Linked DNA regions of Homo sapiens: regions 1 and 2 are each linked to region 3. Evidence: fine-mapped expression QTL. A gene starts in region 3. Each other region holds a variant in brackets. All regions are shown on one strand. Distances are between the middles of the regions.

The links. PIP is the estimated chance that this variant, and not a neighbour inherited with it, causes the effect. A credible set is the group of variants that fine-mapping cannot tell apart.
Region 1: its variant is the best candidate, but not a certain one, in a credible set for the expression of ELOVL5 in whole blood (INTERVAL, PIP 0.54).
Region 2: its variant is the best candidate, but not a certain one, in a credible set for the expression of ELOVL5 in whole blood (TOPMed, PIP 0.59).

The regions. Positions count from the first base shown.
Region 1 is chr6:53,263,713-53,274,614 of GRCh38, reverse strand. It overlaps ELOVL5 (ELOVL fatty acid elongase 5), which reads left to right. Exons shown (of 8, transcript NM_021814.5): 6 at 1,271-1,395; 7 at 3,888-4,022; 8 at 5,345-7,211. The coding sequence ends at 5,488. Among named protein-coding and RNA genes, the nearest start is that of MIR5685, 7.8 kb to the left of the region's middle. The variant C/T (reference allele first, on the strand shown) is at 6,405.
Region 2 is chr6:53,281,886-53,292,787 of GRCh38, reverse strand. ELOVL5 (ELOVL fatty acid elongase 5) reads left to right here. Exons shown (of 8, transcript NM_021814.5): 3 at 825-1,012. Among named protein-coding and RNA genes, the nearest start is that of MIR5685, 10 kb to the right of the region's middle. RefSeq lists an enhancer at 9,530-9,699. The variant A/C (reference allele first, on the strand shown) is at 4,475.
Region 3 is chr6:53,341,946-53,352,847 of GRCh38, reverse strand. ELOVL5 (ELOVL fatty acid elongase 5) reads left to right here and starts at 3,898. Exons shown (of 8, transcript NM_021814.5): 1 at 3,898-4,031. RefSeq lists a silencer at 4,058-4,497.

The DNA.
Region 1 (10,902 bases), 78 kb after region 3:
ACGAGCACCAAAACTTGATATAAATTTTCTAAGGTTGTACTTGGTTTTTGGAAAGCTTGTAGTCCAAAGTTTCTTATAATTTTCAGAGATTGCCACCTTCAGATTCAGCCTGGGAGTTTTAGCAAATGTCTCAGTCAAAAGTCCCGTCATCCAAACACTGAAGAATTTAACTGAGAACCTATGGGTCTATTTATGGATATTTTTTTCTCTGGGATAGCACTGCCCTTGATTACCTGAGCCTGCTAAGATTCACAGTGTCATGGAATTCCAGAGCTAGGAAAAAAAAAAAGCTTTCCAAATACAGATCCTTTGGGTTTGGGAGGAAACTAAGACCACAGAAAGGTGGGTAGAGTTGGGGCTTTCTGCTCTTCCTCCCACTGTCAGAGCTCATGATGGTGGATTAACTGACCTAACTTTCTAATAGAAACAGCCCCTCCCTACATTTGAAGAGTGCTTTAAATTTTCAGAGAACTTTCAGGAGGACAGATTTAATCAGCTCCACTTGGGCCATGAGAAACTGAACCAGGGAATGGATGTGATGTGTCCAAAGTCAAAAGCCAGTTCCTATCATAGCCAGGAGTAGAAACTTCCCTAACACCAGGCTGTGCACCTGCAACTGCACAGGGAAAAGCCAGATGGCTTGGTTTGGTTGCTGACTGTTGGGGAGGAGGACAGAGTCTGGAAAAAGAACTAGTGGTCCTACTGAACATTGAAAATGATGTGATAAGATGGCTCTTTTATCTCTAAGGAGCTAGACTCTTGACTCTATTATTAATAAAAATGTATGACCTCAGCACTGCAGTCCTGGGAAATAATTAGAAGATGGCTTCAGAGACCTCTCCACACCCCAGCAAATGTATAGAAACAACCATTTTTGAGCATATTGCCCATCAGCTGTCTTCCACAGCCTTCAGAGAGCATATTTGGGCAGTTGTGCATGTAAAGAAAAACAGCTGTCTCTGAGAGTGGGTGGGCATCTGCAGCAAAGCCTGTAGGTGCTGGGATGGCGTCGTGGCTTCAGTGTCAGATGCCCCTCTAGCAGCTACAGCTGACCCCTGGGCTCGGAGCCTCCTGGTGGCTGCCTGCCCAAGTGGAAATTGAATTCTCATTACACATCCATGCATTGCTTGCTGTTGCAGTGTTTGTCAGCTCCGTTGGAAGTCATCTCTCTTTCTGATTCAAAAAGAATCTTGTATTTTTTTTTTTTTTACCACCTGTTCTGTTTAAAACACTAATACATTCTCCTTCCCAAATCCCTCTGTTCCTGCAGCTTATTTTGGTGCCACACTTAATAGCTTCATCCACGTCCTCATGTACTCTTACTATGGTTTGTCGTCAGTCCCTTCCATGCGTCCATACCTCTGGTGGAAGAAGTACATCACTCAGGGGCAGCTGGTGAGTGACTTGGCCTCTTTCCCCAGGACTTACTTCCTGGTGGATACAGACCTCTTCCTGGCTTTAGTGTTATGTAATAGCATCTAAGATGCCCCTTCTCCACCCTTTTTCATTTGATGTAATTAAATTCCTTGAAGTGGGTAGATTAGGGAATTTTCTTGTTTTGAACTGATAGTGAACTGTGACCATGGGCATACAGCTAGTTGAATTGTACAAAGAGGTCTAGAATCTAATTTGCCAACTTCAAGTTCAGCTCTTCTGAGTTTTTGCACATAAGCACATATGCATGTATGTGTGTATATGTGTGTGTGTTTTCTAATTATAGTCCAAAATCCAAAATGAAAATTGTATGTTTCCAGGGGTTTTAGAAGGAGCTGGAGAGTAGTATGGAGTCCAGGGTATGTGTAGCCCATTACTAGGCAGCAAGGATATTTGTTTGGCAGGTATGGATGACCCCTCAGCCCCCATGCAGTGGAGCACCTGTTGGTGAGGATGGCAGCTGTTTGCTTCAGTTAACAGCTCCTCCCCTGGTTTACTGCCAGGGCCAGGCCACTTCACCTGATACTTCTCACCATCCTTGATTAAGCCTTCTGCATTCATCAGTATATTATAGGTAACCTCTTTCTCTCCTCTCATGAATTCGTCTATGAACTAATTAATACTACTACTGCTCATATTAAACACTGACATTTCCTAAGTGTTTAGCACATGTTGGGTACTCATACTAAGTACATGATTTTACATAGATTGTTCCAGTAGCCTGATTTCATATTATTGTCCCCAAGCCAGGCACAGTGGCTCACGCCTGTAATCACAGCATTTTGGGAGGTCGAGGCAGGAGGATCACTTGAGGCCAGGAGTTTAAGACCAGCCTGGGGAACATAGTGAGGCCCTGTCTCTACCAAAAAGAAAAACACATATTATTGTCCCTATTTTATAGATGACACTGAGTCAATAGGCCAAAGCTAGCTGACTGAGGGGTGTGGACATTAAACCCTTTGCCCTGTCCTTGCATTATTAACACATTTTTCTAAACACACCAAGCTGATTCAGATCCCTTCAAGTCAATTATGATTTTTCAATATTTAAAAATAACAATCTGAAAAAAAAGTCTGAGAAAATCTTAGAGACTGAAGTGTTTGATGTTTCATTTTCACCTCTCTGCCAGCTGCTATATGGTCCTTGTTAATTTTTTCTCACCCACCTGTGAAAAAGGAAAATTGTTGATTAACCTCCTTGTTATACTTGAGGAGAAATGATGCAGAAATTGATTTATACCACAGTTTTGGGTCTGGCGGAAGCAGAATTTAAAAGAACAGACTGGCAAAGTTGGTCTCCCGTTAGGCTCTGTACTTTGAGGTGGAAGATTAAACCTACCCAGGTTGTCAGGATTTATTTTAAGCACCACTCCTAGTTATTCCTCAGTCTGCAGTACTAACCTTAAAAAAGAGAAGGCAAACAGCCAGGCACAGTGGGTCATGGCTTGGAGTCCCGGTCACTCGGGAGGCTGAGGTAGAAGGATCTCTTGAACCTGAGAGTTTGAGGCCACCCTGGGCAACATAGACCCTGTCTCAAAAATTAAAAACAAAAAACTCTACATAGAAACATTGGAGCTGCTAGAAATACAGTGTGCAGAGCCTAGCCCTTTTTTTGGGGGGAGGGGCAGGGGTTGAGCTGGAGTCTCGCTCTGTCACCAGGCTGGAGTGCAGTGGCGCGATCTCGGTTCGCTGCAACCTCTGCCTCCTGGGTTCAAGCAATTCTCCTATCTCAGCCTCCCAAGTAGCTGGGACTACCGGCGTGTGCCACCATACCCAGCTAATTTTTGTATTTTTAGTAGAGACAGGGTTTCACCATTTTGGCCAGGATGGTGTTGATCTCTTGACCTTGTGATCCGCCAGCCTCGGCCTCCCAAAGTGCTGGAATTACAGGCGTGAGCCACCACGCCCGGCCTGAGCCTAGCCCTTTTTAAAACATCTTTCCACCATTTCTCTAACCAGTTCACATGCGTTTCAAGGTTTATTCATCAAAATTAATCAATGCACTTAGTGTTGTTTGCCAGTAAAGGTTTAAATCTACTCATCAGCCTTCACCAAACCAGAAGCGTCCATGGATAAGGAGTTGGAAGGATGTCCAGCCAGGTGGCACATCCTGCAGTGATGTTATCAGTGCCCTTTCAACATACACACTTGCTCTTCCTTCTCAAAAAATAAAAACAAAAAGTCTTGGATGTCTCTATAGTGTATCCTTGAAATTTGGAGAAGGTAGTTTAAATAGCTTGGAGGGCAGAGGAAGAATATATATAAGACAAACACACCTAGAGTTTAGGATAAGTATAGTGTATGTGTTGTGTTCATGAAGTGACTGCTGTACCTGCAGCAAGGGTAGTAAGTGTTAATTCAGAAATTTAGGTGATGCTGGTTAAAAAGTCTGCCTGGTGTGGGGCCTCGTCCATGCACTGTCCCTGTTCAGCTGCATCCCCTCTGTTCCCCTAGCTTCAGTTTGTGCTGACAATCATCCAGACCAGCTGCGGGGTCATCTGGCCGTGCACATTCCCTCTTGGTTGGTTGTATTTCCAGATTGGATACATGATTTCCCTGATTGCTCTCTTCACAAACTTCTACATTCAGGTAAATCTCACCCTTCTCTGGGACTTGGAATCTGGGGCCTTTACCAACAAAGGCCCTCATCTATTTACTTAATGGGCATGTGGAGCCCTTGCTGGGTGACAGGCTCTGGCCTCTAATGGAGTCACTATGACAAGAGCAGCCCCTGCCTCTGGGGGGCTCACAGCTCACTGGAAGACACTAGAATCCTGTTCTAGAGCCTGGGTGAGGAAGTCTTGGGATTCCCCTGGGAAATGGAAAACTGTGCAGCAGGACCCTATGTTGCTTCCCTCTGACCTGCAGCAGAGACGTGAGAGGTGATTTCAATCAGAAATCTCTCAGTTCACTACCCTGAACGTCATGGCCAAATGAAATTTCAGAAGAGATTTTTATCACAGTCCTCAGATATGGAGATCTGCTTTTTTGTCCCAGCTTTCTTATACATTCAGTCTTCAGGTGTGAGGATTCGGTTCATTCCTAAGCATATGATGTGGTGATGTAGGTCTTTGCTCACAGAAAGATCCATTTAGGGCAGATAATTTCCAGTGGAGCCTGACCACGTTGCAGCCACTGCTGATTCTCCTGCCATGCGTCACCCCCCAGATGACATGTGTCCTGCCTTTGTTGCCAGTGCCTGGTAGCCATAAGGCCTGCTGATCTGGGCAAAACACGGAGGTCAGGAGCAAGGGCAGAGGCTGCAAGTCCCGAGGCTCAGACATTTGTCCTTTCTTCTTCTGTGCCCACAAGCACCTGTGTGTGGCATGTTGAGTTTCAGTGGAAGTCATATACTTCTGGGCTTCATAGTTTATGGCTGCACTGTGGGACATACACCAGCTACAAGGAAGGTGAAAGGATAGGACCCGATGAAGCTGAAATCACATTTATTCTAACTACTTATAGCAGCATAGCACTTTGTTCATGAAGGCTGAGATAGTCGCCGAGGCAGTGAGGAACTTTTGAAGACGAACAAGGGATGTGGGTGTCAAGAGAGCTGCTGCCAGGTGGGAAAGACCAATTTGGCCACATAACCCCTGTCATCTGCCATCCAGATACTAAAAGGCAAAGCAAAGTGTAAATTGAATTTTCTATGTGACATTTTAAATAGTATTTCTGTTGCAGCCTGTGATTCAGTTAACTTACCTCAGGCTAAGCCTCAAAAAAAAAAAGGAAGAATGATTGAAACCAGTGACAAAAGATTTAGTCAATGAGGACTTGACCTCAGGAGTTTCTCCTTGATAAGATTTGATCTTGAAACTAGGCCTAGTGTTAGGGATGCAATTCTCAGTAAAGTTCCCTATAAAGAAAACTGTGGTCATTTGGTTCTCATCTGCCCTTACACATTTTAGACCTACAACAAGAAAGGGGCCTCCCGAAGGAAAGACCACCTGAAGGACCACCAGAATGGGTCCATGGCTGCTGTGAATGGACACACCAACAGCTTTTCACCCCTGGAAAACAATGTGAAGCCAAGGAAGCTGCGGAAGGATTGAAGTCAAAGAATTGAAACCCTCCAAACCACGTCATCTGATTGTAAGCACAATATGAGTTGTGCCCCAATGCTCGTTAACAGCTGCTGTAACTAGTCTGGCCTACAATAGTGTGATTCATGTAGGACTTCTTTCATCAATTCAAAACCCCTAGAAAACGTATACAGATTATATAAGTAGGGATAAGATTTCTAACATTTCTGGGCTCTCTGACCCCTGCGCTAGACTGTGGAAAGGGAGTATTATTATAGTATACAACACTGCTGTTGCCTTATTAGTTATAACATGATAGGTGCTGAATTGTGATTCACAATTTAAAAACACTGTAATCCAAACTTTTTTTTTTAACTGTAGATCATGCATGTGATTGTAAATGTAAATTTGTACAATGTTGTTATGGTAGAGAAACACACATGCCTTAAAATTTAAAAAGCAGGGCCCAAAGCTTATTAGTTTAAATTAGGGTATGTTTCAAGTTTGTATTAATTTGTAATAGCTCTGTTTAGAAAAAATCAAAGACCATGATTTATGAAACTAATGTGACATAATTTCCAGTGACTTGTTGATGTGAAATCAGACACGGCACCTTCAGTTTTGTACTATTGGCTTTGAATCAAGCAGGCTCAAATCTAGTGGAACAGTCAGTTTAACTTTTTAACAGATCTTATTTTTTTATTTTGAGTGCCACTATTAATGTAAAAAGGGGGGGGCTCTACAGCAGTCGTGATGAAACTTAAATATATATTCTTTGTCCTCGAGATTTTAGGAAGGGTGTAGGGTGAGTAGGCCATTTTTAATTTCTGAAGTGCTAAGTGTTTTTATACAGCAAACAAAAAGTCAATTTTGCTTTCCACCAGTGCGAGAGAGGATGTATACTTTTCAAGAGAGATGATTGCCTATTTACCGTTTGACAGAGTCC[C/T]GTAGATGAGCAATGGGGAACTGGTTGCCAGGGTCTAAATTTGGATTGATTTATGCACTGTTATCTGTTTTGACACAGATTTCCTTGTAAAATGTGCCTAGTTTACCAAAATTAACAAAGGGGGGGAAAGGACCTTAGAACTTTTTAAGGTAAAATCAAATATAGCTACAGCATAAGAGAATCGAGAAATTTGATAGAGGTAACTTGTTTAATGTAAATCTAATAGTACTTGTAATTTCTTTCTGCTTAGAATCTAAAGATGTGTTTAGAACCTCTTGTTTAAAAATAATAGACTGCTTATCATAAAATCACATCTCACACATTTGAGGCAGTGGTCAAACAGGTAAAGCCTATGATGTGTGTCATTTTAAAGTGTCGGAATTTAGCCTCTGAATACCTTCTCCATTGGGGGAAAGATATTCTTGGAACCACTCATGACATATCTTAGAAGGTCATTGACAATGTATAAACTAATTGTTGGTTTGATATTTATGTAAATATCAGTTTACCATGCTTTAATTTTGCACATTCGTACTATAGGGAGCCTATTGGTTCTCTATTAGTCTTGTGGGTTTTCTGTTTGAAAAGGAGTCATGGCATCTGTTTACATTTACCTTATCAAACCTAGAATGTGTATATTTATAAATGTATGTCTTCATTGCTAGGTACTAATTTGCAGATGTCTTTACATATTTCAATACAGAAACTATAACATTCAATAGTGTGCTGTCAAAGTGTGCTTAGCTCACCTGGATATACCTACATTGTTAAATGTCTAAACAGTAATCATTAAAACATTTTTGATTACCTGTGCCTGCATTTTACATTTTTTGTGCTGGCAATTCTGAAGAACTGGAGAAAAATCCACTTAATTCACTGTCTAGGAACTTACACAAATGGATATAAATAATTCAGTTAGGAAGGCCATATTATTGCTTAGTTCTCAATGAGGAAGGACCCTGCATAATAAGGCATAGTGGTGGTTCCACCCTAATGCTGTCCCCTCTGCCTCCTCCAGGTAATCCCACTAAAGGTTCCAGCTCTAAATATGCTCCTTTGTCCTTCCTCCCCATTGGCCCCAATCTCTCCCCTTACCCTGAGAATGTTAGAATTACTTTCCTAGGTCTAGACCATAGGTCTTCTGCAAAATTTTTTTCTGGAAAGAACCAGTTGGAAAATATTTCAGGCTTTGCAGGACATACAGTCCCTGTTGCAGCCACTTGACTGTGCCATCGTGGAGCACAAAAACAGCCATAGACAATATGTAAATGAATGGGCATGGCTGTGTTCTAATAAAACTTTATTTACAGGCTTGGAAAACATAGCAAGACCTCATCTCTACATAAAATTTTTAAAAATTAACTGGGCATGGTGGTACATACCAGCAGTCCCAGCTACTCAGGAGGATGAGGCCAAAGATCGCCTGAACCCATGAGTTCGAAGTTACGGTGAGCTAGGGTCATGTGACTGCACTCCAGCCTGGGCAACAGAGTGAGACCCCATCTCTTTAAAAAAAAAAATTACAAAACAGAAGGCCTGTGCCTATAGTTTGCTGACCTCTACTCTAGAGTAATGAGGTCCCCTCCCCTTGGACCTAAAGCTCAATCATTTTATTTGCCAAAGATCATTTTATGTCCCAGATTGTGGCCCTTCCCAGCGTACCCTACTTATTTTGAATTTACAGGTACATTCACGTCTACAACAGGAGAGATGACATGGATGGTCCATCTTCCTTCCATCTACTTCATACCATATGGTCCCCAGTATAGGCTCTTAGGTACTAAACTAGAAAGCACCTAAGAGCCAAGACTAAGCCTATACCGTTTTAAATGAGTGCTCATGAAAGTCATGTTAGTTGCTGAAATTACCTGCGGATGTGACTGCAGAATTGTCAGAACTCCAGAGAAATGTCACCTAAAACTGCATTTAGTACTTGGGATATTATCCAGAAGGTGTAAGAGGATTGTTGGGGAGTTGATGGGAATAAATTATATCCCTGTCTTTCCCCTCTAAGTTCAGAACAAATTGAAAAAATACTGGAAATTAGACCAGTAGGAATCAAAATAGCATGTGTCTTACTAAGAAGGCTGGATTGGTGAAACTAAGACCACAGTGTGGCTCTCTAATTAACCCTTGCTAATAACTCTATTAACCTAACTTACCAGGGCTCAGTAGCACACCAGTGGTTGCTCTGAGGGTTGGTCTGGTGATAAAGTGATTATTAAAATATATTAAATATCAGTCCTGGAATTTACCTACCTTAAATTGTAAACTCCCCTTGTGGCAGATTCTACACTGATGACCTTACCATGCCAAGAAAGTGTGCTTAGCTGCACCTCCCAAGCAGCAATCAAAGTCTTCCCTCCTCCCGTCAGAGAAGTGAGTGGATAAGAGGCGAGAGAGAGGGCAGATGTGTTCTGCTGTCCTTTTTCTTGTATGGAAAAGGGAGGATTCCCATTTCTCCCTCTATTTTTGGCAGCCTTGCTAATCATGTGAAGGGCATTGTAGACTAATATGAGAAGTACAACTTGGAGACCACATTGGCTGGGTTGAAATCCTACCTGTATGACCTTTTGGCAAGAAAACTTTGCCTTAGTTTTCTCTTCTGCCAAATAGGAGTAATGTTAGTTTCTATGTTACAGGGTCCTTGTAAGGATTAAATAGATGACTAATGATACTGTATATATAAAGCCTTTGGAACCCCATCTAGCTCAGAGTAAAGTGTAAGTGATAACTTCAGGATTGTAATCTCAACTCACCCCACTGGTCTCTTTCAGCTGTAAGCTATTGTTTCACTGTTATTTCCCTGGTTGGCTGCTCTAGTAATCCTATCCAAAAAAAGGGAAGGAAGTTATTTCGTGTGACATTTTCTTTGTTAAATCAGTGTTGAAAAGAAATCAGCAATTGTTAGGAGTCAAATGTTCACCGTCTATATTATTCCTGATTTTGCCAGAGTTTTACATTAAGTTCACCATTCTGGAGTTTTTAGAATCTACTTTGGAAAATAGGGCAGTGATTATCAGTATCTGGACTTCGTTCATTGTTTCCCTGGAGTTCTGACAACAATTCTGCAGTCATATCCACAGGTTGTTTCAGCGACTGACATGTCTTTCATGAGAACTCGTTTAAAACAGGTGTTTCCTGCTATCCCCTTATCACTCTTGGACTTCAAATCCTAACCAGGTTTTTCTTTACACTCTTTAATTTGGAAATGATTGTCCTCAGTGGAGCAGATGGAGCCAAATAGTGGTTGCTGTCAGTTTTTTGCTCTGCTCTTCAGCATTGCTTCATTGGCCATTAGTTCTTACTCCAGGCATAGATTTAAAACCTGCTTTTGTTATCCTTGACATTTTTGTAGTCCTTATCTTCTCTCTTTCTTCGGTATGTTTATGGCTCATGAAAAGAAAGTTCCTGGGCCAGTTTTTGCTATAGCTTGCAGAGGATGTCTGGATTCGACTCTTGATCAGATCAAGGAAGACTTCTGGGGTGGAAATTGTAGGAACAAGCAGTGCAGGATCCAGTGAATGGCTAATGTAGTGGTGACAGAGACCCAGTTGTAATGCTTCCCTTTCTCACATAATCAGGACTCTCCTGAACAGTACCTACCACCCTGTCTGTTGCCCCATTTATGTTACTCTGTTGGCCAGGCCTTTGCAGAATGTGACCTTGTTCACTGGGAGAGTGCTTGGTACAGAGGACTGAGCTAGGTGTATTGAGCAAACAGGGATCTGTGAGAAAACAACCGGCCCTCGCAGGAGCCTCTACTGAATTGGGATCAAACATACACACATGTGCCTTCTGTGTAAAATGGTTGTGGTGACTGCCGTAAACTGGTATAAACCAGCTACCATGAGAGTCCAGGGAGGGAGAACCCTTCTAGCAAGGGTGGGTAAGAAAAGCACTGTAAAGGAGTTGGCTTTTAATCTGAGCATTCAGAGACCATCTGGGTTTCAGTAGTTGGAGCCTGAAGGTGCTGGGAAGACAGCATTCCACATACAGGAACCAGTATGAGCAAATGCATAGAAGGCCCAGAGGGAGATGACACACTGCACTCGAGTGGATCTGTGGGTGAAACTGCTTGTTTTAAAAATGAGGTCAAGTGGGAAGAGAGTGGAATTTGTCTGGGTGTTCTCCTTGATGAAATGTGTAGAATGTTGTTCAGAGCTCCCAGAGGAAGTAGTGATTATGTGTAAAGGAACCATTCTGAGCAGAGCCTCCTGTCACTGGCCTGTGCCCTAGCCGTCCTGCTCCCATCACCAGCAGTGCCAGGGAGGAGCCAGAACATGATGATAACGAGAACCAGGACTCACATTAGTCTCAGTTATAAGCTGATGGAGTCTTCTGTCAGATAGGGCAGGTTCAAAGGGTACCTCAGACCTTTGCCAGAAAATTGCTCCTCACCAAAGAGATGGCATTTGAAATCTGAAAACGGGACCCCTGATGGGATGAGTCGGGATTGAAATCCCACATTGGCTCATAAACAAATATTTCTTAAATG
Region 2 (10,902 bases), 60 kb after region 3:
ACGGAGTCTCACTCTGTTGCCCACGCTGGGGTGCAGTGGTACGATCTCAGCTCACTGCAGCCTCTTCCTCCCAATTTCAAGCGATTCTCCCACCTCAGCCTCCCAAGTAGCTGGGATTACAGGTGTGCAGCACCATGCCTGGCCAATTTTTATATTTTTAGTAGAGATAGTGTTTTGCCATGTTGGCCAGGCTGGTCTTGAACTCCTGACTTCAGGTGATCCACCCGCCTTGGCATCCCAAAGTGCTGGGATTACAGGCATGAGCCACCACACCCAGCCCTTGTTTTGTTTTTAAATCATTGTCCTCTCTGCTGTTGACCATTACACTCATAGCAAAGGCTGCCTTTCTAATTAGTGCCAGTTTCACTAACGTGGCTAAGCAGCACGTTTTCTGAGTCTGCATGTGCTGGCCACACTTGCCGACTGACACACAGCTGAGATGGAGGACTTCAGAGTTCAATGACTGCCATTTCTTGGGTTTTATCACCCTATGTGTAATCTGGTATACCTGGTTAATAAATCCAATTAATGGGAAGTGTAGCCTTCTCCTTGTTTTCTTCTTAAGTTCTTTGGAAAGAATATTTGTATTATTATTTTACTGAGCAAAAATCATGAATAATACATTGTTATTCAGAGCATGTAACAAGGAGCTTCACCTTGTTTGATATGTATTGAAAATCCATGCCTCCTCTCCTGATTGCTTTATTGGAATTAAGAACATGAATACCAGGTGACTTTTATATCATCATGGTTAGAGAAATTTTTTCAACGTTTGAAAAGTTGTGAATGTTTTTATATATCATTAATTTTTTTTAATTTTTCAGATACTAGAGTAAAAGGATGGTTTCTTCTGGACAATTATATACCCACATTTATCTGCTCTGTCATATATTTACTAATTGTATGGCTGGGACCAAAATACATGAGGAATAAACAGCCATTCTCTTGCCGGGGGATTTTAGTGGTGTATAACCTTGGACTCACACTGCTGTCTCTGTATATGTTCTGTGAGGTAAGTCAAAGGTTAACACAGTCTTCCTTTCACATAAATGCACTCATATTGCTGTCCTAAATTGTATTCCTAAATGAGGAAAGGTGGCCGCTTGGGGTGTAGAGACAACTGGGCAAGCAAGTATCTTAATGCGTTATGAGTGTGTTTTAAAATCGATTTTTCAAAATGTCAGAGTTGTTTGTACAAGTATGCCTTCTAGAATATCTAAAATAGAAGCCTTTGTTATTGATTCTTCTATTATGTTTCGTATGATATTCAAAATTAAAGTATTTTCAGAAATACTCTCATGCAAGCAAAATACAGAGTGGAAAATGAACAAAATGTGAAAAACACATGTGAAAGCATTTTATTATTAAGCATCTAATAAGTGCCTGCTTCTTGTTTGAAGGTAGGGGAGGAAGGAAGTGGGTGGCACTTGTGTTTGGTATGTTTTGTGGCACATCACCCTCTCTGATTGGATAACTTGTCAAATCTCAGTTGTTTTTTAAAAGCTAAGAGGAGTGTGACTGGTGAGATCTGCATTTAGGTTTTGAATTGTCTGTCTGAGTTCAGGCCCAGTTATTTTATATCACTGCAATGTTGAAAATCACATTTGATGATCTCAAAGGCAAATGTTATAGCTTAAAAATGAAAGAAAAATCAGAATCAACCCTTCTCTTCTCCCTATTTTGAAGGGGTAACACTATAGCCTTTAAAGCTAAAAGGGGGAGGAAAGCTTCCCTCTGGTGGTAAGCAGTTTGTGTACATTTTTCCAGGAAAGCCTACCCACTTTTCATTCTTACAGCACCAACCTATTTCTAACTCTTCTGGAGAATTAAGCCCTGGATAAAACCTATACAGGCACTCCTGTATAGGTTTTCAGGGTTTCATTTTGGTTTTAGTTCTTCAAGGAGTAGTAAAGAAGAAGGTAGAGGTGGGAGGAAGAGGAGAGATAGAAACATGAATCTTAAAATTAGTGTTCAGGGGTCAAAATGAATTCTCCATCAGCCTCAGGCCATGATGGTGTCTCCCTGTCTACGTGTGGTGGTGTGCAGGAGTGTGGGCGTGTGCAGGCATATTTGATTATCAGAGGTGTTGCAGCTGTGGGATATCTGTGTCTTGTTCTCCCATGTATGTTTCATAAGCCAAGGTACAGATATTCTGAATAGAATGGTAGATGTTCCTAGCATTACTTTTATGCTTGACATGCCAAGAAATGCTTACAACTCCTTTTTTTGCTTTTTTTTCTGTCCTATTCTAGAATGAAGTCAGTTTAATTAGACTCCAAGATGGAGAGTTCAGGACTGGAGCCAGGGGAAGTGCACAGGAGTGACTCCTGGCCCCAGCACTATGCACATTTCTGTGTTCAAGGGACAAAACCACAGCAAGCTGTCAGGTTTCTGAGTGAACTGCTTACTTTTCCATAATTGATAGATAATACAGCCATGTCTTTAAGAGAACTCTTACAGAGTTTATTATTATACATGGCAATATTAATAGAGAAAAATATTTCATGTGATTTTTAGAGAACTTAAGCATTTGCCTTAAATGTTTCTTAAGCCCTAGAAATATAGCTATAATTTCATTATTTATCCTCTCTTAAACAGATGATTCCCTGGTAAAGAGAAGAAAAACACTGTATAAAGTACAGCTGTGTGCATCTGAGTGGATGTGGGGGGTTCTGAACACATTGTAATAGAAGGTACAGATTTTCCTCTGATAGCTTGGTGAGAAGAGAAGACTTTGAGCAGTGACTAAGCACTGAATACAGAAATTTAAGAAATATACAGAATAGGGAAACTACATTTTTAACTCACAGTTTAGAGTACATAGAGAGGTAATAGACAAAGAGGCAATGTTTCCTTAAATTAAATCAAGTTTACAAAAAGCTATCCAGGTCAGATATACCCAAGTTGAAAATAAGCCCTAGTGCTCCAAGTTGATGGTATTCACATTTGGTTTTTGTCCGAGTTTTCTCCTGTACATATTGTAAAACCCATCAATAATTCCATTGTCATGTGTCCTTTTTCAAACTTCAAATATCATTTTAGCTACACGTTTTTCTGTTTGTTTGTTTTGAGACAGTTTCACTCTTGTCGCCCAGGCTGGAGTGCAGTGGCGCCATCTCGGCTCACTGCAACCTCCGCTTCCCAGGTTCAAGCGATTCTCTTGCCTCAGCCTCCCTAGTAGCTGGAACTACAGGCATGTGCCACCACTCCTGTCTAATTTTTTGTATTTTTAGTAGAGACAGGGTTTCACCATGTTGGCCAGGCTGGTCTTGAACTCCTGACCTCAGGTGATCCACCCGCCTCGGCCTCCCAAAGTGCAGGGATTACAGGCGTGAGCCACCGCACCCGGCCATTTTTCTTTTTATACTTAGCATTTCTACTCCATTGAATGCTAAGACACAGAAGAGCAGTCATGGAGTTTTACAATGGAACGAACTGAGGAGATCATGAAGCCCCATGGGGCCCCTCATTTTAGAGAAATGTCCCAGGAGTTAGAGCCATTCTTCTGTGGTCACACACCTGTAATGGTCATTATTTTAGTTTTTATTTACCTTCCTGCTTATCTGCATATTTGGGGCTGTAAAGAATTTTTTAAATAAGTAGTCTTTGGTATTTTTGTTTATTTAATTCTGTGGCATAAATTCACAGCTGCTTTAGCAAGTTCTAGATTAATAAAAATAAAATTAACTGTCACTTAAAGGAGACAGGAAGAAGCGGGGTTTTTTTGTTTGTTTGAGACAGAGTCTCACTCTGTTGCCCAGGCTGGAGTGCAGTGGTGCTCACTGCTTCTCGCCTCCTGGGCTCAACTGATCTCCCGCCTCAACCTCCCAAGTGGCTGGGACTACAGGAGCATGCCACCACGTCTAGCTAAGTTTTGTATTTTTCGTAAAGACAAGGTTTCATCATGTTGTCCAGGCTAGTCTTGAACTCTTAGGCTCAAGCAATCCACCCACCTCTGCCTCCCAAAGTGCTGAGATTACAGACATGAGCCACTACATCTGGCCAATAGGAAGAAGTCTTGAAAGAAGGGAGATGATCAGAAGGAAATGAAAGGAAGTCACTGAAACTTTAAATTTACTAGAAGGAAAATAACTAAATCCCAGTTTTAAAACTGTGAAACCGAGTTTAAAATGTAGAAGGAATATAGACTTGCTCATAGTTTGTGTACTTGGTAGAAACAAAATTAAAAGGAGAGAAGAGGTATTACTTCTATATCTCATTAACTTTAGTGTTTATTTCCAGGAAAAAGGTCATAGATCCCTGATTTGGAGCATATTTGAATTAGTGGTATGTTTTAATTTGAAAGTATTGGACTTTATAGCAATCCTTTTTGCTTTTGCTTATTAGGGGTTGTCTAATATCACAGTCCATGGTGAAAGCTCGGAAATGAAATTCCAGGTTATAGAAGAGAAACAACTTAGTTTGCATTAGTTACTTAGCTTTGTAAAACGATGCCCTTACAGCAAACTTAAAA[A/C]TCTTGTGCGCCTTTTAGCCACCCGAGATTCAGGGCATTTGTCCTCTGAAGAGAAGCCTGATTTTTTGCACTATCCATGTGTCTTTTCTCTTGTCTCCAGTCCCAAAATTGAGAACCTCTACATACATGGTGCCAAACGGTGGCTTTCCCTCACTCTGCCTTATCTACCTGGTTGGATCAGGTTTCCCCTGACCCATCCAGTGAGCTATCAAAGCCACTTTTAACTCCTTTGTTAGAGTGTTACAGGTGGTTTCCCTCTTAGGCAGATGCTCTGTCCTCATGTGAAGCCATTCAATGTGTCTACTCTTCTCCTGCTGTGCCTCAGACCTCTTAGACCCTAAGCAGAGAGGATCTAATTGTGTTTGTTACAGTCCAAAAGGGAGCAACCCCGTCGATCTGCCTGTGCCTCACGAACTGATCCTTCGACTCAGCAGCAGCTGCCAGAAAACAGGGTCAGTGTTGTGCAGTGCACATGGCTTTGAATTCCCCAGGAACACTGTGTTGAAAGGATGGCTGGCTCCTTTCCTCAGAAGGAGGCACTCCGGCCTTTCTTAGCCGATCTGTTATGCTGAGCTCTACTCAAACCCCAGCAACACCAGGCTCTTTCATTCTTCTGGGCTCTACCCCTTAAAACTCCCACTTCTGCCTGGCAGTCTCCCTCTCACTTTTGAGGACTGTGTGGAAGGATCCAATTCCTCTGTGAAGCCATGAGCGTACTAAGGAAGAGGACTCAACTCTAGAGAGTGAATTTTTTTTTCTCCCAGCCTCTTTGGCTATCCCATTGTTCCCACGGACTATGATGCATTCCTTTCAAAGTACTCTCATGATGTGCCCCTTAGCATCCCATCCTTGCCCCACTGACACTCACTGGCTTAGGCTAGAATGAAACAATGTTTTCCCCACCTTCTTCATCCCACTGTTACTATACCTGATTACTCCACCAAATGGATCCTGAGTATTAGAATACAAAAATAAGCAAATGTCGGAACCACATTTTCAAGTTATTTAGTAGTCAAAGATAAATCATGGGTTACAGACAAGATTATTTTTTGAGTATCTGTGTATGTTTCCTCCCTTGCAGTTAGAACTATATGTTGTGAATAGTGTGAGAGAATGCGCTTTAAAATATTCAGAACATTTAAAATGTAATTTTGAAAGAAAAAAATTTGTAATTTTGAAAAAGCTGGATGGATGCATCTGGCTTGGCATAAATCCAAACTTATCTTTCTTCCCCTTTTCAATTTTTATTTTAAATTGTAATTTTGGAACTATTTGAAAATATTTAAAATAAAATTATATAGATGATATCTGTGCACCTAACAAATGCTTGATTTTTGTTTGTTTGTTTAAATAAGAAAACATTACAAAAATGCATCTAAAGTACAGTCCCTTTCCAGACTTCTTCGGAAATTTGTACAGTTTTTCTCTGGATGTATTTTTACTACATATATATGTATACATGACAACACATAGTACGTTCTAAGATAGTTTTTAAAAACCATACGTGAATGGTATACTAATTAAACTCTTTTTCAAATAGATTTTTTTCAGTCAGTATATTTTTGACCAATTCATCTTGAGTCGTATAGATGTAATTCATTAATTATAATTATGTTAATTATAGTTAATTAGAAATTCATTTTATCTGCTTTGTATTATTTCAGTGTTGGAATTTATTACACCATTTTATAAGTGTTTCTTTGGATGGATATGTATGTTGTTAGATTGTTTTTTGTTGTTGTTTTTTGAGACAGAGTCCGGCTCTGTTACCCCGGCTGGAGTTCAGTGGCACAATCATACCTCACCCACTGCAGCCTAGAACTCCTGGCCTTAAGCGATCCTCCCACCTCAGCCTCCTGAGTAGCTGGGACTACAGGCATGTGCCACCATGCCTGGCTAATTTTTTTATTTTTGGTAGAAACATTGTCTCACGGTGTTGCCTGGACTGATCTCAAACTCCTGGACTCAAAGTGATCCTCCCACATCAGCCTCCCAAAGTGCTAGGATTACAGGTGTGAGCCACTGTGCCCAGCTATGTGGGTTTATGCAAGTTGTTCAATTAACAGTGTGCCAAGAATCTTCTTAGACATATCTCCTTATGCAAATATGGTAAGTTTTTTGACCAGATAAATGCATAGGGGTTTAATGACTGAATCCGACAGTCTCTTGTCTTTAATGGGGAAATTTAATTCATTTTCATTTAGCATGTTAATAGTTATTTTATACCTCAGATATTGCAGCATTAGTTGCAGATCACTGCAATAAAATGAGTATTGCAATAAAGTAAGTCATACCATTTTTGGTTTCGCAGTGCATATAAAAGTTATGTTTACATTATGGTCTATTAAGTGTGCAATCGCATTAAATCTTAAAAAAAAACAGTAGACATACCTAAATTTAAAAATGCTGGCCAGGCACAATGGTGTACATCTGTAATCCTAGCACTTTGAGAGGCCGAGGTGGGAGAATTGCTTGAGGCCAGGAGTTTGAGACCAGCCTGGGCAACATAGCAAGATCCTCTCTCTACAAAAAATTTTATAACTAGCCTGGCATGGCTCGAGCTTGTTGTCCTAGCTACTTGGGAGGCCGAGGTGGGAGGATGGCTTGTGCCCAGGAGCTCAAGGTTCCGGTGAGCTATGACCACACCACTGCACTCCAGCCTGGGTGACAGAGTAAAACCCTATTTATAAGAAAAAAAAGATAAATTAAAAATAAAAATGCTCCCAGGTGCAGTGGTATGTGCTACAGTTTAGTGTAGCCATGTTCGTCAGTGATCTTAGTTAAATCTTCCAGATAACTGGCTGCAGCTTCTATAGCAGCACTTGCTGCTACACCTTGCCCTTTTGTGTTATGGAGATGACTTCTTCCCTTAAACCTTATGAGCTATCCTCTGCTATTTTCAAGCTTTTCTTCTGCAGCTTCATCACCTCTCCCAGGCTTCACAGAATTGAAGTGAGTTAGTGGCTTGCTCTGGATTAGATTTTGGCTTAAGGGAATGTTATGGCTGGTTTGATCTTCTACCTAGACCACTCAAACTTTCAGCAATAAGGCTACTAATGCTTTCTCATCATTTTTATGTTCATACGAGTAGCACTTTTAATTTCCTTCAGTAACTTTTCCTTTGCATTCACAACGTGGCTAACCTGGTACGAGAGGCCCAGCTTTCGTCCTGTCTCAGCTTTCCACCTGCCTTCCTCACTAAGCTTAATCATTTCTAGCTTTTGATGTAAAGTGAGAGACATGCTACTCTTCCTTTCACTTCAGCACTTAGAGGCCATTGTAGGATTATTAACCCAATTTCAATATTGTTGTATCTCAGGAAATAAGGAGGCCAGAGAAGAAAGAGATGGTTAGGGGGAACAGCAAGTCTGTGGAGCAGCTAAAATACAGACAATATTTGTTGAGTTTGCTGTCTTATATAGGTGTGGTTCATGGCACCTCAAAACAATTACAATGGTAACATCAAAGTTCAGTAACCACACACAGATCGCCACAACAGATATAATAATAGTGAAAAAATTTGAAATATTTTGAGAAATATTTTATAATTGTGAGAATTACAAAAATGTGACACAGTAACACATAGTGAACACGTGCTGTTGTAAAAATGGTACCAATAGAGTTGCTTAATGCAGAGTTGCCACAGACCTCAGTTAAGAAAACCTGTAATATATACAAAGTGCAATAAAGCAAAGATGAGGTATGCCTGTACTTTCTGTCACCTTTTTTGTGTATATATGTTTTCTTTGGCCTTCTTTTCTCCTTTACTGCTTTGTAGAATTTTTGTAACCATTATTTTTTATTGTACTTATTCAAAAGTTATTCATTCTGTTGAGTGGTTACCCATAGATGTTTACCATGCATTTTTAACTTACGACAGTTTCAGTTGAGTCAGTATTTCTATTCTCCTAAACAATACCAGGGACCTTAGAGGATTCTAGCTGTGACCCCTCATCTTTCATGTTACTGTTGTCAGGAGTTATTTCTACCTTTTTTTTTAAAAAAAAAAAAAGATGGTCTTGCTCTGTTGCCCAGGCTGAAGTGCAGTGACATGGTCATAGCTCATTGTAACCTCAAACTCCTGGGCACAAGTGATCTTCCTGCCTCAGCCTCCCAGGCAGCTGGGACTGCAGGAGCATGCCACTGTGCCCAGCTAATATTTTTATTTTTTGTAGAGATGGAGTCTCACTTTGTTGCCCAAGCTGGTCTCAAATTCCTGGGCTCTGGCAGTCCTCCCACCCTGGCCTCCCAAAGCACTAGGATTACAGGCGTGAGCCACCACATCTGGCCTCACTTTTTTTTTTTTTTAAGGTCCTAAATAATCACCATTATTGCCATCAGTGTTTACTGATTTTCTTTGCTCTGTGAAATTTATTCTTTCCTTTTTGATTCAATTTTTTTCGTAAGTAGTTCTTTCTATGAAGGGCAATATCTTAGTCTGAGTGTCATGTTATTTGCCTTTACACTTGAATAATATTTTATCAAGGCATAGAATTCTAGATTAACAGTTATTTTTCCTCAGCACTTTGAAGATTTATTCCAGAGAAGTCTGCTGTGGTCCCACTTTTGCTCATTTGTAGGGTAATCTTTTTTTCTTTCTAGGCACTTTGAAAATTTTGCATTCTTCCATTCACTCCTACTTCCTTCATTTGTTTTTAATCTGTTTCATCCATCTATTGTGTTTTTAGTTTAAATGGCTATGTATCTTTTACTTCTGAAAGTTCACTGCTTGCTCTTTTTTTATTCCATAACATGGAAGTATTGTCCCCCCCAGTGATATAGATTAGATGACAGTGATCTCCAAATTTAACCATTTGCTGTGTTGCCTTTTTAAGTATTCTATTAAAAGCTTGCTTACAGATATATCTGTGAGGTAATGCCTCTGGGATAATTATTGTCTGTGTTAAATTTCTTTACCTCCTAAAACAGAAGTAAAGGTTTGCCTAGTGTTCTGTGTAAGCATCCCAAACTAGTATTGTTGGGGGTCATCTCAGGTAAACATGCCTTTTCCACATAAAGATTTTGGAAGGAGTTGAATTTAAGCTGATTTCTCTTTTTCTAAAGAATAATTTGTTGTGGGGACCTCCCTCGCATTATAGGTAAGAATTGATTGTGTTGGAGTTTTTGCTGTGTTTTATACCACTTTCCTACCTGTGTTTATAGTGAGAGAGTTGGTTCTGCTTTTGTTCAGTTTGCCACGTTGCTAGAACCAGAAGTCAGTTTTTTTTCCTTTGAATTTGTTTTGAAAATTTGTGATGCTTTTTTATTGGAAAGATGAAAGAAGTTGAGCATTTGGTGACTGAATGCTTTGTTTGTGCTTTCTAACCTCTGTAATTGTGGGCTGTGAAAGCATCTCCCCAGGCTCTGGGTTTGAAGGCCATCTGATGGAACCACAGAGCAGTTGCTTTGGAAACATAATATTCTAAACTGGTTGTTTTTCTTTCCCTTCAGGCTTTCCTAAAATAGATACGTTATTGTGGGAAAATAGGATTTGGAAAAACACTTAAGCAACCTGGCAATTGATTATTGAATTTTATTTGAAAAATAACTTTGTTTACCAAAATACTTTGAAAAGGCTATTTGCTGTTCTTTTTCCCATTTAGCAGAGGTATAGAGCAGTTGAAACATCTGGTGAAATTAGTACTTACAAGAAATGCCTGATCATTGCCTAGAATACTTTTCACTCTTAGTTTCCTTACAACTAAAATTCCTTGCTGAGAAAGAAACTTCTCTCAGGGCCTGAAAGGAAACAGTTAGTTGTCCCTAGTGTATCTGACACTGCCCTGAGAGAATGCCTCACGGTAGGGAGAATGGAGAGAAGGATGCAGCTCAAACATCCTTCATTCCTCACCCACACCCAGGGGAGGGGAAGGGAATACTTTCTACAGAGAGGAAGCCTTCTGGCTTGTCCAGAGCCAGGCCTCACTCCTCTAAACTTGCCCCTGCAACACCTGGAGAGCTTGGCTCTGCAGCTGGTGTAGCTAGGAGCACATCACTCTACAGATCCTCAACTAAAGTGGACTTAACTCTGCAAAGCAGGCGTCAGTGGGTAGGCTGGAGACCTTCCTTTAAATGACACAAATTATACTTTGGCTGGGACATCCAGCACCACCTTAGCCCTAGTTGGAAGCAAAAGTACTTAACATTTGCCTAAGATCATAGCAAAGACAGATAGTGCCTACCTTATGTCAGGTATTGGGCTAACTAATCTAATGCTTATTGCACTCTTACCATCTGCTTTCTACAGAGGGAAAGTTCTGGGAGGCCTGAACAGGGAGAACTGCTAGCATAAGAGGGCAGGGCTTGAGGATTCAGGGAAAATGCCAGACATACCTGTTTCAGTTTGGATTGAGGACAGGCTGTTTCTTTGTGTTTTGTTTTAAAGACTTCTCAAGTGTACAGAACCTGTCTTTTTTAACTTAGCCAAG
Region 3 (10,902 bases):
ATTCATTAATCGAATATTTATGAACATTTGTGATTTGCCAGAAATTCTGCTAGTCATTAAGAAAACAATATAGCAGACCAGGCATGGGCAGTGTCTTCAAGTAGTTCATGTTCATCAAGATGAACACTCAAGGACAAGGACAGAGATAAACTGCAGGACATATTGTTGAACAGCAATGAAGAAAAGGAATAGCAAAGTAACAATTGAAGTATGGAACTGACTCCAAGGTCTGAGGAGGACAAGAAACTGCCTTTAATCTACCTCTGCCTCCGACAAAGACAAGCCAGGTGGCCTGTGGGAATTCTGGGCAGCAAGATAATAGAAAACACAAATTAGAACAGAAGAAAAAAGGATTGTGGGGGGAGGCGGAGAACGTAGGAACCAACAGAGACTGCAGTGTCATCTTTAGCATAAAATAGCTGCTACTTGACCTATATTTTAGTCAACTTTGATATGTCCAGAGGCAAACATTGGCTTATATCTTTTCTGGAAGGATGTGTTTCATTATGTCATGCAAATACGTCCTAATGAAACAAGTTTCACTAATCAGAATTGTATTCTAATGAAAGTTCCAATTGTATTTTTTAATTCAACTGCAGCTGCTATAACAATAAAACAAATTGCCTAGGATGTTAAGTACTTTCCTTTTCAAAAGCAATACTGAAGCAACCTTCTAATACACTTAGAAGTGTGTGGTTTGAGGAGATTTGAGCTCAATGATGAAAACTAAGAGCAAAAGGAAAAATATTACCAGAATTTAAAAACAAATAGAAGGCCAGGCACAGTGGCTCACGCCTGTAATCCCAGCACTTTAGGGGGCCGAGGTGGGTGGATCACCTGAGTTCGGGAGTTCAAGACCAGCCTGGCCAACATGGCGAAACTCCATCTCTACTAAAAATACAAAAAAATTAGCCAGGTGTGGTGGCGGGCGCTCCCAGCTACTTGGGAGGCTGAGGCAGGAGAATTGCTTGAACCTGGGAGGTGGAGGTTGCAATGAGCCAAGATCGTGCCATTGCACCCCAGCCTGAGCAACAAGAGCGAAACTCCATCTCAAAAATAAATAAATAAATAAATAAATAAATACATGAAGGAGAAAGAAGAAAATATTAATAGTTAGCTATTGAATGAAGATAATTCAACAATCATTTCTTGGGGGACTACCATGTGGATGCTATGAACAAACAGGTAATAGTTACAAGGTTTTGTTAACTGTACCTTACATGGGCTCACATTGTTGGATAGGTGGGTTAGAAGGGCAAGGATGGCTTCAGCACAGTTTCCAGAACCCAGCTGGCCAGGAATCTGATTCTGATGCTACCTAAAACAGGTTCCTTGAGCCCTGTTATTTAGTAAGCCTGGCATTGGATCCTAGGTATTCTTTTGATTTATTTGGAAAAAATCCCACAGTTAAGTTGGGGAGTCGTTTCGGCTCCACTGTTTTTCTTACAGCTTTACTCATGAGTGCAATGATGCAGAAATACGAAGTAATTGTTAGGGTGGGAGGAAGTTTCCCCCAGAGATATATGACACATGATAAACATTACATTGTAATATGTAAAATAATACATTTGCATATATATATATGTTCTGAGAACTCTAAGTCTCTGGCTGGAGAACTAATGAGAACATGACCGTACCAACATGTTTGAGAGGAGTTAATAATCTAATAATCCTGGGATGTGACTATCTGACAGAGGATTGGAACTCTGGAGCTGAAAAGTGATGGTGATGGTGAGGGGGAGTAACTGTTCACAGATTCACTCATCTAACACGTATTTATTGAGCCCTTATATGCCAGGGATTGTACTAAGATCTACAGATCAATAAGGAGCAAAATTCAACATGTTTTCCCCTTCAACGGAGTTTACTACCTAAAGCGGTGGTCTTTAAAGTGGGGTACATATACCCCAAGGATTGAGTGAGATGATGCCATCAGAAAGCAACTACAATACAGGGTGGTGATGCTATAATGGAAACCAAGATACACACATCAACAAAGAACTGTGTAAAAACGCAGCCTTTGGGGGATGGGAAAAAACAGCAAAACGTCATACTTAATCATACAATAAGAAAAATCACTTGATATTTAATGCATAGCTTGACAGTTATATAAGCCTGAACTTAAAGATATTTTGGTCAAATGGGCTTAAAACATTTTATTGATAGGTAAGCACAATTCAAACAAGTGCGGCGTAAAACTTAAGACTTTTGGAATCTCAAGTTAAATTAGAAACTTTTAAAACCTGGAAAGGCAAAACTTAGATGGGATGACAGAGATGAACCCTGGCCTTGGACTACTGGCAGAAGCGTGAAGAATGAAGGAGATATCTCAAAAAAATAGTCTATGCCACCAGCATATGCTTTTCTCATGTCCCTTGATGTCCATAGCAGCATTTACCACTCTGCATTGTAGTTGCTTCCTGACTGTATCATTTTCCAGGCCCAAGAAGTCCTTGAAGGTTTCAAATTTTGAATACCTAACATAGTATCTAGCAAATTGAAGTCATTCAGTGTTTGTGGAGCTCAATGGCAACTGACAATCTCGATTCTTTGTATATGTTTAATTTACTTAATTTGTACATGGTTTGTATACTTGCATTCCTATTGCAATGGCCCACTGCCTGGAACACAGCTGGCACGTGATAAGCATTACATTGTAAATATGTAAAAGAATAAATTTGCCGGCCAGGCTCGGTGACTCACGTCTGTAATCCCAGCACTTTGGCAAGCTGAGGCGAGCGGATTACCTGAGGTCAGGAGTTCGAGACCAGCCTGGCCAACATGGCGAAACCTCATCTCTACTAAAAATACAAAAATTAGTCGGGTGTGGTGGCGCGTGCCTGTAATTCCAGCTACTTGGGAGGCTGAGGCAGGAGAATCGCTTGAACCCGGAAGGTGGAGGTTGCAGTGAGCTGAGATCGCGCCACTGCACTCCAGCCTGGGCAACAGAGCGAGACTCTGTCTCAAAAAAGAAAAAAAAAGAAAAAAAAGAATAAATTTGCCTACATTAAATAGCCGACTGTTAGGTGGATGCACATAGAGGAGTAAGAATACAGCAAGAGGGGCACACGAAGAAAGGCTAAATCTCTGGGGTTTGAATGGGGAAACAGTAGGATACAAAGCTAATGAAGGTCTTTAATTATCCAAATATCAGTGAAAAACAGCAAGGATCTTCCGTTTATGCCCTGAACCCCCTTTGTCTTAAGTGCTTAAATATGCTTAGCTGAAAAGACACTGATTCCATCTTTCCTCATTTAACAATCCTTTAGAATAATTTCTAGAGTAGAAATGGAGTTGATAGTGGCTTCCAAAGAAAAATCAGAATCCCTAAGAAAAATACACGGTAAATCCTTTGCAAGGGAGTTATGGTTACAACAGTTTTGAGTCGTTTTGTTCTTGTTCCTTTATCTTGTTCAACTGCAGACCTTCACTCCGGCGGTCTCCGTGGGCATTTAACCCTTTCAGCTTTAACGATGAAGTGGATCCCCTTCAGCATGACATAACTCATAGAGGAGACCGTAACGAGGGTGGGCTTCTGCCACCCAAATGCGGCCACAGACTCCTGCCACGCCTGGCAGTAAAAAAACCAGAGTTCAGGGCATCGACAACTTCACCGGGGCTATTGCGCAGGCTCTGCGTTCCACGCAGGCTTATTAGGAAGAAAGGGGAAAAAAATTTCCCAGAGACACGTGGAACCGAGGGGCCAACCCCGGCCTAGGCTCTCCACCGCATCGGATTCTGGAATTTACGATCACGAAAGTTCTATTGTCCCGCGATTGGCTCCCGGGCCGCATGACATCATAGCGCTTGATTCATCCTTCGGGTCCCGATTGGCTGGCCGCGCCATTGTGACGTCACGGTCAGCCCACGTTCTGATTGTAGATAGCCGGCGCCTTCCTCTTCCCATCGCGCGGGTCCTAGCCACCGGTGTCTCCTTCTACATCCGCCTCTGCGCCGGCTGCCACCCGCGCTCCCTCCGCCGCCGCCGCCTTGCTGCTGCTCAAAGCTGCTGCCGCCCCTTGGGCTAAAAGGTAAAGCCGTCAGCTCCGGGAAACTTCGTCGGGGGCCGCCGCTCGGCCATGACACCCGCGCGAGCGCGCGGCCGGGAAGCGGTCAGAGAGAACTGCCGTTAGGTCTCGGACCTGGTGCCGAGAAAGAGCTGCCGGGGCAACCCGCGCTCCGCCCGCGGCCTCCAGCTCCGCCGGCTCCGGGGTACAGCCCGGCTCCTCGGGCGCGGGGAAAGGGGTGCGGGTGCGGGCGCGGGCGGCTCGCCCCACGCCGAGGCTGAGGCAGGGCGCTCGGGAGCGTTCTCTGTGCTGCGGTCCCACCTGTGCGCGCTGACAGGCGCCGCGGGGCACGACACCGTGCCCACACCAGACGCGGAGGGATGGATCTGTCCGCCTGGGTCCTCCCGCCCTGCGGGCCGGAGCGCGCGGCGGGAGAGCCGGGGGAGCGCTCTCGGAGGGAGCGCGCTTTCTTTGGAGTCGGCGAAACCCGGGTGAGTTCGAAGAGCCTGTGCGAGGGTCTGCGGGCACCGGGCGCCGCTGGGGGGACTCTCCGGCCTTTCCTTTTTGTCCTGTTCTCTCCGCTTCCGTTAACCCTGCGGACCTTCCGTCCGCCCCTCGGAGGGAAGCCTGCTAGCTCGGGACCGCTTCAGTTTTTATTGAAACCAGACAACGGCAGCCCTTGGTACTCAGGGAGGGATGAGGCTGGTGGGAAAGCGAGAGGGCGGGGACTCGGGGGCGACCGGGGCGGCCCTTTCTGGGAGCCTGATCCCTGGAGAGGCGGGAGCGGTTGGCTGCGAGGGAGGCGCGCGGCGGGGGGGCGGTTGTGCTCTGCGCCGGGGGAGCTAGAGTGTGTGTTGTCTTGCGAGTTGTAAGGAAAAGTGCCTTTTTACTGTTTCCACGCCGGTAAGACTCTCCCACCCCACCACCTCGGGTCGACGGAGCAATGCCTAGAGCAAGAGTTGTTCTTGCTGAACTGCGTCTTGCAACCGTTCCGTGTTCTTGCACTTGGCGGTTCCCCCCGCCCCATCCACAATTGTGAATTAAGCTCCTTGATTGCAAATTTGGAGAATGCATTTGGCCAGTTATGCAAAGTGGCGGAGGTGGCGGGGTCGGGGGCGGGGGGTCTCTTTCGGAAGAATCCAGTGCATGGTTTATTAGCTAGACTGAGGAACCGAGAGGTGCTAGATGGGATTTGTGGGGAGCGAGCAGCCTAATTTGTTTTAAATAGCGGGACCCGTGGCAGGAAGTGCTTCATAGAATTGTACGGAAGAGCTGATGTTGCTTGTCAGGTTTTGTAACTCATTCTCCTAACCGCTTGGCAGATAACCTGTTGGTCTGCACTTGTTTTGCTTGCACGTCTCAGCCAAAAGCATTTCGTGCAGAATCTACAGATAGAAACAGGCGGTTTTGCATTAGATGGCCGTGGACAAACATTTTAGCCTTCCATCTGTGATTGGGGACAAGTGGGTTACTTTTCTGGTAGCTCAGACACTGCCTGGGATTCTCCAGGAAAGCTCTGCACTTGAAAGGGAAATGTTACTCATTTTCCTTTTAGATTTTTACCCTAGATTCTAACTTCTTATTGCCAGGAACTTTTTCTGTACTGTTTCTCTTTTTGCATTTTCGTTTCTATTTCTAATTGAAGACAAAGGGGAAATTTTTATTGATAGTTACAGATAGGTAATGTTACAGAATGTAGTACAGAACTTTGCTGAAAAGCGACAGTAGAAGGCTTACTAAAATTTGATGTTTTTCAAGAAAAATATCTTGTAACTTCAGATATTGACCTCACCTCCTTGACTCAATTTCCTTGTCTATACATGGGGATTTTATGTGGCAGGATCATTGTGGATTTCAAGAGATAATGCAAATGAGAGCCCAGCATTGAGTCTGCCAAATGGTGGTTTGAAAATGTTTCCTTCCCATTCCCTGAAATCAACAGCTTCTTCTTGGTTACAGACCTTAATTTTTGGATGTTCTGTTTGCAAGAATCTTTTTTTCCACTACCTCTTCTTTTGCTCCCTGCATAATGGTTGCTTGTCTTCCTGCTTCTAGAGGTGAGCATCCATCCTTGGGTGTCTTATTTCCAGCTTGAATTACACAAATCAAAGCAAAACTGTTTACTTTTCTTGAGGGTAACTTTGGTGCCTAGGTGGGTAGTTAGTGTGAAGAGAGAGTTTTACCTCTTGCTTTCCTGGCTACATTCTTCTCTCCTAAAAGATTTTGTAATTTTTTTTTTTAATTCCTCCTCTTTGCCTACCAGCTCTTCTGTTATCAAAAGGCTAATCCTCTCATTAGTTACCTGTAAATAAGTCTTTCCTTGAATGCTTTCTGTGTCAGGTACTTATTAATACGCACATGTACATAAACGGTTGCTTTCCACACGTAATTCTTATAACACCTCTGTGAGGTTTTATCCCCCAGTTGTTTTTTAAGAATTGAGGAGCACTATGAAGACACATGCACACGTATGTTTATTGCAGCACCATTTACAATAGCAAAGACTTGGAACCAACTCAAATGCCCATCAATGATAGACTGGATAAAGAAAATGTGGCACATATACACCATGGAATACTATGCAGCCATAAAAAAGATGAGTTCGTGTCTTTTGCAGGGACATGGATGAAGCTGGAAACCATCATCCTCAGCAGACTAACACAGGAACAGAAAACCAAACACTGCATATTCTCACTCATAAGTGGGAGTCGAACAGTGAGAACACATGGACACAGGGAGGGAAACATCACACACCCGGGCCTATCGGGTGGTGGGGGGCAAGGGGAGGGAGAGCATTAGGACAAATTCCTAATGCACGCAGGGCTTAAAACCTAGATGATGGGTTGATAGGTGCAGGAAACCAGCATGGCACATGTATACCTATGTAACAAACATGCACGTTCAGCACATGTATCGCATAACTTAAAGTGGAAGAAAAATAAAAAAGAATCTCTAGGATTAAGGCCTAGAGATGACAAGTGACTTGTCCAAATTCCTATAGCTCTGTCTCCTGCAACATCTCTGCTCCTTCATATATCCCTGTGCTGCCAGGATTATTTGCCCAGTGGGCTCTGTGCCATTATGTAACACTGTTACTCCACAACTTAAAAATCTAACCTTGTGTTTAAAGGTTCTTGTTAATCCATCCAAGACTAACAATTTATTGTCTCTTAAATCTGTCTAAAATCTGTTCCCTTCCTTGTAGCCCACACTTGATTCATTTTTTAAATTAATTCATTGACTTCTCAGTTACTGATTTTGGGTGTGAGGGGCTGGATACAAAAATGAATTACAACAGTTCCTGATTCCAGAGGGTTTCCTGATTTAGTATATACTTTAAGCCTGTATACACATACTTAATCTACACCTTGGACCAAAAGAGAGTCAGAAGCAGATTTCTGGGACACTTATATCTTTATATCTGAGAAAGCTTTATGGCAGAGCTATCCATGTTAAGGGCCTAGCATTCCTGAATTGGTCAGGATGCTTTTGGTGCAAGAAACAGAAAACCCAACTGAGACCTACCTGTGCATCTGACCTGAAAAGTCCTGAGGGCAGGACTTTTGCTCCATTTCTCTGAAGTCCCCTCAGATGTCTGTTATGTCCTAGACTGATTTTCCAAGATGACTGACAGCAGCTGCCACCATAATCTCACATGGGGATTCCCTGACTTCCTGCCACCCTCCAAAGAGTCCTTTACCTTAAGGTGATTGACTTAGGCCTTGGTTACTTGAAGCAATAACTGGAACAGTGGACATTTGATAAGCTGGGGGCCCATCCCAGAACCAGGGAAGTGAAGTTAAATCTCCTCAGCTAGCTGCTTCACCTTTAAGAAGGGCCTGCAGAACACAGGAAGTCAGCTACAGCGTCTGTTTTAAGGACCGAATGGATGATTGGATTAAACTAAATTGACTTGAATTAAAATTAGAATTTAGCCTTACATTTTGTAAAGGACTCTTAGTTGATAGGCAGGAATAGGAGGACATGCGTTCTAGGCAAGAGGGAGTTTGGAGAGTAAGCGAGTGTGGAATCATTGGGCAAAAAGCAAATAGCACAATTGGCAGAAGCTGGTTTAGAAGGCAGGAGTGGAAGAAAAGGTGAGAAAGGCAAGTTATTGATGTAATAATAATGGCTAACTCTTACTGAGCTATTGTATGTCAGACCTTGCACTGAGCCCCTCACAAGGACTTATTTCTATTATTAATGGATGCTACAGCATTCCCATTTTACAGGTGGAAAAAGGCCCAGAGTTTAGACACTTGATTTGGGGTCACAAAGCATTCCAGCTCAGATCACCTTGACACCCTGGCCTGCTCCGTCTCCTAAGGTGTTTGGTAGAATACCACCAATAAGCTTTTGAATAAGAATGAGGACATTATGAGTGCTGTGCTCCAGAAAGACAGTCTTGTTAGAGTGTAGGGTGGATTGTTGTGGGTTTGTTAGAGATGGCCAGGGCAGTGAAAAGGCCTGACCTGAAGCCACAGCCATGAGCACAGACTTGAGAGAGGTAATTGTGAGAGACTGTGTCCAGGATAAGACTTGAAGACCAGTTGGATTTGAGGGCCAGCAAGAGGAGGGATACTCTTCCAAAGAGAAGAGGGAGCTTTGTGATCAGATGGAAATAGCCCCACAGCCTAGATAGATATCCAGACTAGCTGTTTCTTCCAATTCCTCCTCTTCACGGCCAACCTTTGTCTTAGCTATTTTTTTGGTTGCCTTTCTGCAAGAACATGTTTCTACCACATTTCATCTATTGTCAGCTTTTCACATTTCACATCTGGGTAGAGATGGAGCTTATAATCAGTGGCATCTTAAAATCACTGCAGGTAACTTTCCACATTTTAATATTACAGAATTGGGATGCCTCCTACACTTTTCCCTGGTGAGAAAAGGAAAGCCCCAATGTTACCAAAGGTGGTGCAGCCAGATGCTGGCAGAGCCAGGCTTCTGGGCTTCTTCCACCAGCTGGGTTACCTCTGCTCCCATGATAGTTATTAAAACACATGTAGCTTCACGTTACAGGTTTATAGTAAAGTACATACATGTTTGTGTGTTTATTAAAACTGAAGTAATTTGAGAAGATTGGAAGGCATGATTGTTTAAGTAGGGTGCCTCATTCTTGTATAGAATCTGGCTGCCTTGGTTTCTTGTCCTAACTTGAAGAAAATCAACTCTGAGCATTGGTCTCTTTTCCTTTAAAATGAAAGATTAAATTTTATTTTCATTTTTGCCTAGAGCAAATTTTATTTTTTATTTTTGTTTTGTTTCTGTTTGGCCAGGGATAGAGAATGAAAGTGAGATCATTTAGATCTTAGAAAGGTAGATGTTGGCTGGGCACGGTGGCTCACACCTGTAATCCCAGCACTTTGGGAAGCCATGGTGGGCAGATCATTTGAGCTCAGGAGTTTGCAACCAGCCTGGGCAATATGGCAAGACCCCATCTGTACAAAAAATACAAAAATTAGCTGGATGTGGTGGTACATGCCTGTAGTCCCAGCTCCTTGGGAGGCTGAGGTGGGAGGATGACTTCAGTCCAGGAGGCGGAGGTTACAGTGAGCCGTGATTACACCACTGCACTCCGGCCTGGGTGACAGAGCCAGACTCTGTCCCAAAATAAATAAAGAAAGAAGGAAAGGAGGGAGGGAGGGAGGGAAAATGTCAGAACAGTTGATGGAGATTGCAGCAGCAGCAGCAAGCTGCTGGTTTTCTCTTTATGAGATTAAAACATCACTGCTGGAGATGTTCTGGCCTATCCTGACCTGATTTTCAGTTTCTGCAATAGGAACCCTCACCACCAACCCCAGTTTCAACCCGTAAATGTTATTACCAGCCTTTTTGGTTCCCACTGGCGTGTTTGCTCCATGGTAACATTTTTAGTGGACTTGTAGGCATTCACTTTTAGAATTGTGTAGTCTCTGGATTTAAAATATTCATACTTGGTGACCTTTTAGAAAGACTAAATTCCCACTCTTGCTCCTCCATCCTCTTCTGCCAGTTCTGTGTGAAGTACAGTTGTAATTGCATTCAGGCATGAGTATGTCTTAGTATTCCTTATTATTAGATTGGACTTTTTTACCTTTTATTTGATGTCTGCTGGCTGACTGGGATTTAGGGAAAAATTTCTGATTTATTTTAAGATTTTTAGTGCTGATACTGGCATGCTTTCTCTAATTGGGAGAATAACAATTTTATTGAAATATACCTGTGATTTTAAACTGTAATCTTTATGGTTATATTAGGTAGGCACCCTCTTGCGAGCACAGGTTCCATCTCTGTTAAGTTCCACATTTACCCCATCCTTTTCCTCATGTCAACAATTTCATCCTGTCAGAATTAATCTCTTATAAGCCCATGCTGAACAGACCTAATTGAAGCCATGCTGGCGAATTGGCCACTCAGGTCTGTGTTTTATGAGTTTCTGAACCCCAGAGTAGTACTTGTTCCTCTTTGGTCTTGGCACAGCAAATGCTACAACAAAGTGAGTGTTATGAATTTCTCCTTCCCTGAAGAATAGTTCTCATGATACCAAATTCAGTAATTATTCATTTGCTTCCAGGGGAGTTTGAAATGTGATGTATCTCCCTAGGGGTAGTATTCAGGGTACTTCTGCTTCAGTCTTTGGCAGAAGAAATAATACTTCAATATTTACAGAAGTCGTTGACGCCTCCATCAGCTGTATTTGTTAGAAGCATCTGTGTGAAAATTTGAGTTTGCTTCTGTCCGAACTTCTGCATATTAATCTCTGTGATGGATCTGAGGTGCATTTAAAAGAATACCTCCTGTACTTCTTTTAAGTAAGGACAGCTGTGGGAAGCAGATTGGGTTGGCAGCCTGCACCTATGCGGGGTTCCACCTCTGCCACTTAACAGCTGCGTGGGCTTCAGCAGGTAAGTCA